Regions from separate parts of the Homo sapiens genome. Here region 2 is linked to region 1. The links come from fine-mapping of genetic effects on gene expression. A gene starts in region 1. The other region holds a variant in brackets. All regions are shown on one strand. Distances are from middle to middle. Region 1 holds the start of ALG5 (ALG5 dolichyl-phosphate beta-glucosyltransferase). Region 2 has its middle 3.7 kb from the start of SUPT20H.

The links. PIP is the estimated chance that this variant, and not a neighbour inherited with it, causes the effect.
Region 2: its variant is fine-mapped to the expression of ALG5 in whole blood (TOPMed, PIP 0.98).

Annotation. Positions count from the first base shown.
Region 1 is chr13:36,996,351-37,001,732 of GRCh38, reverse strand. It overlaps ALG5 (ALG5 dolichyl-phosphate beta-glucosyltransferase), which reads left to right and starts at 2,393. Exons shown (of 10, transcript NM_013338.5): 1 at 2,393-2,498. The coding sequence starts at 2,433. EXOSC8 (exosome component 8) reads right to left here and starts at 947. Exons shown (of 11, transcript NM_181503.3): 1 at 911-947. The coding sequence starts at 927. RefSeq lists enhancers at 378-437, 658-917, 1,118-1,207, 1,668-1,717 and a silencer at 2,178-2,477.
Region 2 is chr13:37,060,723-37,066,104 of GRCh38, reverse strand. No RefSeq gene overlaps it. Among named protein-coding and RNA genes, the nearest start is that of SUPT20H, 3.7 kb to the right of the region's middle. The variant G/A (reference allele first, on the strand shown) is at 2,553.

The DNA.
Region 1 (5,382 bases):
CAGGCTCACCGTTACTTTGAAATCCCAGGAGTTACTACTAGTCTCGCCACTAGATCTTGTTTACGAAGGTTAATTTTAAACCAAGTATATATACTACTATATCGTGTCTTCGGAGTTTATACTCATAGATAACTATTTCAACATAATGGATTTCCTTTGGAATCCTATTTATTTTATCCATTTTTTAAAAACTTTAAGAAAGTCCACTGGCTTCACACACACAAAAACCTTCCAAACGAGGCATGATCCTTTTAGAAATAAATTACGGGAGAGGGAGAAGCAGGCGGTATGTGGTTCTGATGCAACAATCTTGATTGATTGATTCTGACAGAGTCTCACTCTGTCGCCCAGGCTGGAGTGCAGTGGCGCGATCTCGGCTCACTACAACCTCTGCCTCCCGGGTTCAAGCGATTCTCCTGCCTCAGCCTCCTGAGTAGCTGGGACTACAGGCGCCCGCCACCACGCCCGGCTAATTTTTATATTTTTATTAGAGACAGTGTTTCACCATGTACACCAGGCTGGTCTCGAACTCCTGACGTCAGGTGATCCGCCCGCCTCGTCCTCCAAAGTGCTGGGATTACAGGCGTGAACCGCCGCGCCCGGCCACAATCTTTAAAAGATTACAACTATGTCTCCTGGGACTGCACGTTCACTACACACCACGCTCACGAGCGCTCGCAGCGGGTATGGAACTCTACAGAGTCCTTTCATCTCCCGTCTCACTGAGGAAGAAGCCCTTTCTTTTCACTGTGACAACCTCCAGGTCCTCCCGCCCATCGTCTGCCTCGACGAGGAAGGAAATGGCACCCCAACGGGGTCGGCCTCCAGGTGAGAGAATCCCAGCTAAGAGTTAAAGGAAGCTGCCGTCCGCCAGGGTACAGAACTCTACCCGCCACCCGCCAACACTCACTTGAACCCAGCCGCCATCTTCCCGCCCGCGCGTCTGCGCCTGCGCCGCTCCTCTCCTGCGCGCCTGTTCCGCCGCCGCACTTTCGACACGGATGCCGGGGCCGCTCACGCCACGGGAAATGCCAAGGTGGGGACGCGACGAAAGGTCCCTGGCCCGCCCTCGCATCGACTTTCCCCTGCCCAGACGCCTTTCTAGGTTTCCTTGCCTTGGACGTATTTTGACGAATCTGCTGTTAAAGAAGGAGCGGGTCTCCCTCTTTATAAAAGAGCTGGTGCTGTGACTCAGAATAACACCAACAGTTCGGAGATAACAGGGTTTCTAGCGCAGAATCAAGCAGTGCGTGTGGAGCGTTATTCCAATGTTTCTGCGTCTTTTTTCTGCCTGTGACTTAGGCTCAGCCCTGGCCTTGCCTCTTCACTGGTCAAGGGCTCCGTGCTCCAACACATGAGAAACCTGAACTTTTTTTTTTTTTTTTTTTGAGACAGAGTCTCGCTCTGTCGTCCAGGCTGGAGTGCAGTGGCGCGATCTCGGCTCACTGCAAGCTCCGCCTCCCGGGTTCACGCCATTCTCCTGCCTCAGCCTCCCGAGTAGCTGGAACTACAGACGCCCGCCACCGCGCCCCGCTAATTTTTTGTATTTTTAGTACAGACGGGGTTTCACCGTGTTAGCCAGGATGGTCTCGATCTCCTGACCTTGTGATCCGCCCGCCTCGTCCTCCCAAAGTGCTGGGATTACAGGCGTGAGCCACGGCGCTCGGCCGAGAAACCTGAACTTTCTGTGCGCTCATTGTCCGCACCACGTTCTGCTCTGCAGGTCCCGGAGCTGAGGGCTCCTAAGCATCACCTTGTGTTGTAGACTGTGTCGTGCTCAAGGCTGCCATCTCCCTCCTAGGTGGGGTTACCAGATAAAATACAGGATACCACGTTAAATTTGAATGTCTGATAAACACAGCGTGGTTTTTTTGTTTTTTGTTTTTGTTTTTTTGTGGGTTTTTTTTTTTTTAAAGCATGAGTATGCCCCAAATAGAGCATGCAATTAGTTGTTGCCAGAACCTGGAGGGAGCTGGGAAGGCTTTACAGATAGATAGTGGTGATGGTTGCACAGTATGTATGTAATTAATGCCACTCACTATTGTAAACTTAAAATGATTAAAATGGCAACTTTTTATTTTACCACAGTTTATAAAAACTAATGTAATAAACCAGAAACCTGTAACTGGATGAGTCGTATGGTATGTGGCTATCTTAATAAGGCTGTTAAAAACATGATTAGTTTTTTAATCTGAAATTCAAATTAAGTAGACGTCTTGCATACTTGATAAACCTGGCGCCCCGCTGTGGAACCTAGCGCTCCTCTCCACCGACTGGGCGCCGAGGGCACGAGAGCGGCGTTTTCTCCGCCTCGCCACGCGGGGGCGCTGCGGCCAGCGGGCGCGACCTCTCTGGCGGCGGGGCCGGGTCGCGCGGGCGCGCTTCCGCCTGTGTGGAGGTGCGGGATTGGGCGGGCTGCCACGGCATGGAGAATGGCTCCGCTTCTGTTGCAGCTGGCGGTGCTCGGCGCGGCGCTGGCGGCCGCAGCCCTCGTACTGGTGAGAACAGGGATGGGAACCCGCGCAGGCCGGGGCTTACCGCTCTCCTGGAGACTGCGGCTCCTCAGGCGTCCCCTCCTCCGCGCTACCAGTTCTCGGAGAAGTCCCTTTTCCCCTAGATTCCCCCAAATTCCTGACCTCGGAGTTTCCTGGAGTTTCACTCTCCTTTTCTTCGGTTCTTTAATTTTCCCTTGGAATCTTATCTCTTTGTGTGCTCAGAGACTTGTAAGTTTTTTCACACTGGAGCGCACCCACCCGGCCTGGCATCATCGCCGCTTCCATCGCCCCTGGCGCCCGCGCCCCCTACCCACCTCCTCTGTCAACCTCGACCTCTCCCAGACTCTCCGGGACCTGCAGCCGCTGCAGTTCTGCTCCACCCAGGGAGGTCTCGAGCCCCCAGAAGGGGTGTGCTCCCTAGCCTGCTCCCTTGGCTGATGTGGTTAAGCAAATAGGGGTGACGGAGCCTTGACGGCAGCCATCTGTTACAAATGGGAATAAATGCGTGGATCGATGAGACCCACTAGGGACGCAGGGTGAGCGAGAGAGACAGGCCTCAGGCGCCTTGTCCGGGGTCGCATTGTGTCCCAGAATTAAGCACCCTAAATATACTGCCCCTAAACAAGGCAGGACGATAGAATGCAAACTCGATTGTCTTTGCCCTTGCTCTCGAAACACAAAAACATTGTAAACACTTGCTGATTGTTAAGTGGTAGAAAATTGGCGAACTCTCTCCCGCACACCTTGGAATGAGCCTGCCCTCTAGTTAGTAAGTGGAGAGGATTTCAGCTTCCTTGACATTCAGATTAGCCACCTAGACAGCACTGCCAGGAAGGCCACTCTGCCATCTTTCCAGAGGTTGTATAAATTTACAGTTTAGATAAAATGTAATGCATCCTTACTTCTTTGTTGATAGTATCTGGGTGAGAGAGGAGTCCTCTCTTGCCCTAACTAGTAGAGATTTCAGGGTTTAGGGCTTTTTTGTTTTTTCAAGTTTTTGAGCAAACCAGGATTGATTGATTGATTGATTGATTTTTGGCGGGGTGCGGGCGGGGAGTGGATTCACACATTCTTAGATTGAAGCTGCCTTACTTTGGGTCTTTTGCACAGATTTTATGGGATTGTACTGACGGTATTTGTTCCCACTAGCTTGAAGTGATAAGAGCTACCATTTATTGATTGTAGTACTTACTATATGTTGTGTTGCACTTGGTTTAATAGGAGTTATTAAATCTTTAACACTGTGACATATATGTTATCATTAGCATTATTTTACTGGTGAGGAAACATGTTGGAGAAATGAGCTCGTGTACTCAAATGTTGCACAACTAGTGAAACTTAGGTTTTTTAAATGCCAGAGCAAGAAATCATTAAAAAAATAATTTTTCAAAACCTCATCCTGTCTTCATATGTATCCACTCTCCATTACTCACAGTCTCACCTCCTTTCTGAATTATTTTAAAACAACTCGAAGACATTTTATCTTTAAATCCTCAGCATTTATTTCTAACAGATAAGGTCCTTCTTTTTAAAATACCACAATAAAGTGGTCACAGATTTAAATTTATTCTGTGATTTCAAATGCCCCCTCAGTTCACTTGCCCTCACTTGTCTCATATATGTCTCAGTATATATGTCTGTTTGTTCCAATCAGGATCCAAACAAGTGCCACACATTGTACTCTGTTGATGTCTTGAGTCTCTTAATCAGTTGACAGTTTCTCCTCCCCCTTTTTTTCTTTTCCTTGTCTTTTTTTTTTTTTTTTTTTTTTGAGACGGAGTCTGGCTCTTGTCACCCAGGCTGGAGTGCAGTGGTGTGATCTTGGCTCACTGCAACCTCTGCCCTCAAGCAATTCTCCTGCCTCAGCCTCCTGAGTAGCTGGGATTACAGGCGCCTACCACCACTCCCGGTTAATTTTTGTACTTTTAATAGAGATGGGGTTTCGCCATGTTGGCCAGGCTGGTCTCGAACTCCTGAACTCAGGTGATCCACCCTCCTCGGCCTCCCAAACTTCTGGGATTACAGACATGAGCCACCGCGCCCGGCCTTTTTCCTTGTCTTTAATATGATCATTTGTCCTGTAGAACTTCTCACAATTTGGATTTCTTTGATTGCATCCCCTTAATGCCTTTTAACATCTTCTATCTCAAATTTTCTATAAACTGGTAGTTAGGATGGAGAGACCTGATCACATACATACTCGATGTGTTTTTTAATCAAGAAAAAATTGTGAGTGATGCTTCTTCCTTTCTCTTGTGTCTCATCAGGAGTCATGTAATGGCCATTTGTCTCTGGTGTTAAGATGGATCTGTGGTTTCAAATGTTGCCAGCCAGACCCACCAGTTTATAAAGTTTGTCATCAGCCTAATGGTTTTAGTAGTCATTGAGGATCATTACCTAAATGCTTTATTTCATTGCGGGTTGCAAAGTGAAATATTCTCATTGTATCCTTCATTTATTACCTAGAGTTTTGTAATGAAAGAAATCTCATCCTCAGCTATTCATTTACCCTAAAATACCTTTCATACATATAAAACGCAAAAGGCAAATTTTTGAAATGAGATCCTTCCTGCATCTTACCCAGTTTTTGTCTTTAGTATCATTGCAAATTTATGATTTACAGTATTTTTCATGGTTTGATCCATTGCAGTAATTTTTTTTGGCAGGGGGGAAGTGGGAGGACGATCAGATTCTTGCATCATAGGCCACTGAGAGCCCATTCAGGTTGACTACTTTGTCCTTTCAGCACAGCCCTTATAATCTTTGATAATCTTTGATTATAATCTTATAATCTCTGAAGTGATAGTAGTTGATGATGGCAGTAAAGATCAGACCTCAAAGATCAAACCTCAGGAGCTGATGACAATGACAATTTGATAATGTCTTC
Region 2 (5,382 bases), 64 kb before region 1:
AGGTAACAGCCCTGACAGCACCAGAGGAGGAAAGCAAGGCTCCTCATGAGTTATTTGCATCACAAGTACCCAACACAGCCAGACTTGGGTGGGTCTCCTCCACCACCACTGTTGGTCACTGAAAGATCACTTAACATGTTACTCTGTGCCTCTTTTTTTCAAGTAAACTGGCAGTTAGATCTAGAGGCTTGATTAAATTCAGATTTAGGATTTTGTAAAAAAAAAATTTCATAAACAGTAATACTATAAAGTACTATTTATATAGTATAGTACATAGCACATAAATAGCACATACATAAAGTGGATCACTATTAAGTTTCCTTTCAACCTTCTACCCATTTGGTTATTTGGTAACCATTAGTAATTATTCCCTAGAAGTATTATTTTCTCACAGGTTGCAAAATGGTGATATTCTATCACTTTTTTATTTATTCACTGGAATTCTTCTATTAAAAAATTTTCCCAGACTGGGCGCAGTGGCTCACGCCTGTAATCTCAGCACTTTGGGAGGCTGAGGCGGGTTAATCGTCTGAGGTCAGGAGTTCAAGACCAGCCTGGACAACATGGTGAAACCCTGTCTCTACTAAAAATACAAAATTAGCTGGGCGTAGTGGTGCATGCCTGTAATCCCAGCTACTCAGGGGGCTGAGGCAGGGGAATACTTAAACCCAGGAGGTAGAGTTTGCAGTGAGCCGAGATTGCACCACCGCACTCCAGCCTGGGCAACAAGAGTGAAACTACGTCTCAAAAAAATAAATAAATAAAAAATAAAGTTTTCCCCTATCAACTCTTTGGTTACTCTGAATTTCAGTTTGTGTAGGAAAGCAAAAAATTTGGTTTAAAAACTTTTTAAAAGCAATTTCAGAATAATGAGTTAGTGCCCTAGCAATCCTCAATGTGACCAGTGAGAGGTTTAATAAAAGCATTGAAATTTATGTATTTTGAAATTTTTGATATATTTCAAACTACTTCAGTCAAAAAAATCTTTCTGATTCTCCTTGATGCTCCAAGTGTCCCTTCTTTTGCCAGTAGGAGCTCTTTCAAATTGGACTCTGTATCATTGCTTACAAACACACACACACACACACACACACACACACACACACATACACACACACACACACAGTCAGAGGATTCAGAACACACATGTCTTCTGCTTCTCTCTAAGACCCCATCTAGTTATCCTCAACTGCTAGTGGATCTGTTCATATTCCAATGGCCAAAATGAGTCACATAGCCACATGCAAAATCACCATGAGGAAGTATACTGTGCCCACACTGAAGCCATGGGAAGGAGAGTGAGAAATAAAAATGTTTTAAAATCCTGTGAACTAACACTACTATCTACCACATTGAATGTGATGGTTAATTTTACATGTCAATTTTTCTAGGCTACAGTACACAATCAAACATTAATCTAGGTCTTGCTGTGAAGGTATTTTGAAGATACATTTAATATCTATAATCAGTTGACTTTAGGTAAAGGAGACTAATCTTGATAATGTGGGTGGAACTTATTCAATTAGCTGAAGGCTGTAAGAGCAAAATCTGAGATTACTCAGAGAAAAAGAAATTCTGCCTCAAGACTGCAGCATCAACTCTTGCCTGAGATTCCAGCCTACTCAGCTGCCCAACAGATTTCAGACTTGCCAGCTTCCATAATCACGTGAGCAAAATATTTAAAATGAAGGGATGGCTCTGGTCAGAGCAATTAACCAAGGAAAAGAAATGAAAGTGTTCAAATTGGGAGAAAAAAAGTATAACTATCTCAGTTCACAGATTACATGATTCTATATATAGAAATCCTAAAGAATATACACATGTAGGCACACATACAAAATTAATAGAGCTAATAAGTAAATGTTCAGAGTACAAGGCCAACACTTGCTATGGTTTGAATATATCCCCCCAAAGGACGTGCTAGAAACTTAACCCATAATGCAACAATGTTGGGTGGTAAGGCCTAATGTAAGTTGTTTAGGTCATGAGGTCTCACCCTCATGAATAGATTAATGCCAATTGTAAAAGAACTTGAGGCTTCAAGTTTGATCCCTTGCTCTCTAGCCCTCTCTTTGTCCTTCCACCATGGGATAACATACATACCAAGTAGGCTCTCACCAGATGCTAGCCCTTCAATCTTAGAATCTTCAGCATCCAGAACCGTGAGCCAATAAACTTCTGTTTATTATATGTTACCCAGTCTGTAGTATTCTGTTACAGCAGCAGAAAATAGACTAAGAGAATACCCCAAAATCAATTGTGTTTCTATACATCAGCAATCACCAATCTGGAAAATTAAAAACAATTTCATTTATAATAGCATTTGCTAAGAACTAAATATGTCCCCTCAAAATTCACATATTGAAGCTCAAACCCCCAGTGTCACTGTATTTGGAGATGGGACCTATATAAGAAGGTAACTGAGGTTAAATTGATCACAAGAGTGGAGTTCTGATGCTATAGATTAGTATCTTTATAAAAAAAAAAAACAACAAAAACGACCAGATATCTTTCTCTGTGTGTTTCTCTGTCTGTTTCCCTTTCCTTCTCCC[G/A]CTTCCTTTATCATATGAGAATGCAGAAAGAAGGTGGCTATCTACTCGCCAGTAAAAGAGCCCTCACCAGAAACCAAATTGGCAAGCACCTTGATCTTGGACTGCACAGCCTCTAGAACTATGAGAAATAAATTTCTGTCGCTTAGGCCATTCAGTTTATGGTATTTTGTTATGGCGGCTTGAGCAAACTAAGATAGATTTTGCTACCAAGAAGTTGCATGTTGCTTTAATAAAACCTAAACATGTGAAAGTGGTTTTGGAACTAGGTAATGGGTAGAGGCTGAAAGAATTCTGAGGTGCATGCTAGAAAAAGCCTAGATTTCCATGCTAGAAATATGGATGTTAAAGGCAATTCTGGTAAGAACTCAGAAATACAGTTGAAGAGAAAGCCTCCATCTTCTTAGAGAAAACATAATCATGAACACAATTTTGGTAAATATATGTTTGTTAAAGGCCATTCTTGTGAGGTCTCAGATGGAAATGAAGAATGGGTCACTGGAAGACAGAAGAAAGGCAGTCCTTGTTATAAAGTAGCAAATAACTTGGCTGACTTGTTTTCTAGTGTTTTCTGGCAGACAGAATTTGTGAATGATAAAATTGAATATTTAACTGAGATTTTTAAGCAAAATGCTGAAAGTGCGACCTGGATCTTCCTGAATGCTTATAGTAAAATGCAAGAAGAGATGAATGAAAGAAGAAATTATTAAGCAAAAAGGAACCAAGACTCAAATATTTGGAAAATTATCTGCCTGTCATGTTGCAGAAAATGAGAAAGTACATTCTAAAGAAAACACCAAAGGTATGGTTAGACTATCATTTGATAAATAAATGATGAGATTATATGAGCAGAAACACTGCCTGTTTCAACTGAAGGGGATGCAGACAAGACAAAAATGACAGAAGGCTTTTACATGTCCTAGATTCTACAGGACAGGACAATAGAGCTATCCAGCTGCTAACTTTGTACTATTCCTTTTTTTTTTTTTTTTTGAGACAGATTCTCACTCCATTGCCCAGGCTAGAGTGCAATGGCGGGATCTCAGCTCACTGCAACTTTCACCTCCCAGGTTCAAGTGATTCTCCTTCCTCAGCCTCCCAAGTAGCTGAGATTATAGGCATGCACCACCAGGCCAGGCTAATTTTTGTATATTTAGTAGAGATGGGGTTTCACTATGTTGTCCAGGCTGGTCTCAAACTCCTGACCTCGTGATCTGCCCACCTTGGCCTCCCAAAGTGTTGGGAGTACAGGCGTGAGCCACCGCACCTGGCCAAACTTGTGCTATTCTTTAAGAAAAGGGGAGAATGACCTCAAAGCAATTCAGATGTTATCAAGGCCATTACCTAGCAAAACTTTTGGGATGAGACTCTGCCTGGAAGAGCATGCCTGGCAGAGTGTGGGGAGAGGTATAGCATCCACCTAGGGTCCAGAAGGCAGGGCCACCACCCTTGTAGGTCTGGAAGGCAGGGCACTGAATCAAAATGGATTATTCTTGAGCCTTAAAATCTACTAGAATTTGCCTTGCTAGATTTTTGGACTTGCTTGGGACCTGTCATCCCTTCCTTTTTGCCTATTTCTTTTATTTCCTTCCTTTCTTGCTCCTATTTTTGTTTGTTTGTTTGTTTGGAATGCCTATTCTATGCCTGTTCTGCCATTGTATTTTGGAAGCAAACAACTTCCCTGGTTTTACAGTTTCATAGCTGGGGAGAAAATTTGCATCAGGATGAATCATATCTCAAGTCTCACCCTTATCTGTTTTAGGTGATATTTAGAAGAGACTTCGGACTTCAGATTTTAGAGTTGATGCTTTTGAGACTGTTGAAGTGGTATGAATGTATTTTGTATTCAATAAGGACATGAATTGCAGGGGTACAGAAGTCTGTTGACCAAATTATATCTCCACAAAATTCATATATGTAACCCCAAACCCCAATGTCACTGTATTGGAGATAAGATCTATAAGGAGGTAATTAAGGTTTAAGAAGATCATAAAGGTGGGGCCCTTATCCAATAGAATTAGTTACTCATAAGAAGAGACATGAAAGCTAGTGTGCTTGCACAATGGATTCTTGGTGATGACACCAAAAGCACAAGTAACAAAATAGATAAATTAGATTTCATCAAAATTAAAAAGGTTTGTACACTGAAGGATATTACAAAGAAAGTGAAAAGACAACCTACAGAATGGGAGAAAGTATCCACCAATGATATATCTCATAAGGGTCTAATATCCAGAATATATGACTACACATAACTAACAACAAAAACACAAACAACTCAATTTAAAAATGGGGAAATACCTGAATAGAGAGTTCTCCAAAGAAGATATACAAATGGCTAACAAGGGCATGAAAAGATGCTCAAGATAACTAGCCATTAGGGAATGCAAATCAAACCCACAATAAAATACCACTTTATACCCTTTGGGATGGTTACTATCAAAGGAATAGAAAATTATGGTGTTAGTGAGGATGTGGAGAAATTGGAATCCCCCGACAATGCTCTTGGTATGTAAAATGAATGGTTCAGCTGCTGTAGAAACATTTGTTTATGGGTTCCTCAAATATTTTCACGTAGAATTACTATAAGACCCAGAAGTTCCACTATGTTTATACCCAAAAGAATTGAAAACAGGGACTCGAACAAATACTTGTATACAAATGTTCATATCATTGCTATTCACAATAGCCCGAAAGTGGAAACAACCCAAATGTCCATCAGTGGATGGACAGGTAAAACTGTGGCATCTAGGTACAGTGGAATAGTAGCCATAAAGAGACATGAAGTACCGATACATGCAACAAGGTGTACAAGGTGAACCTGCAAAAGATT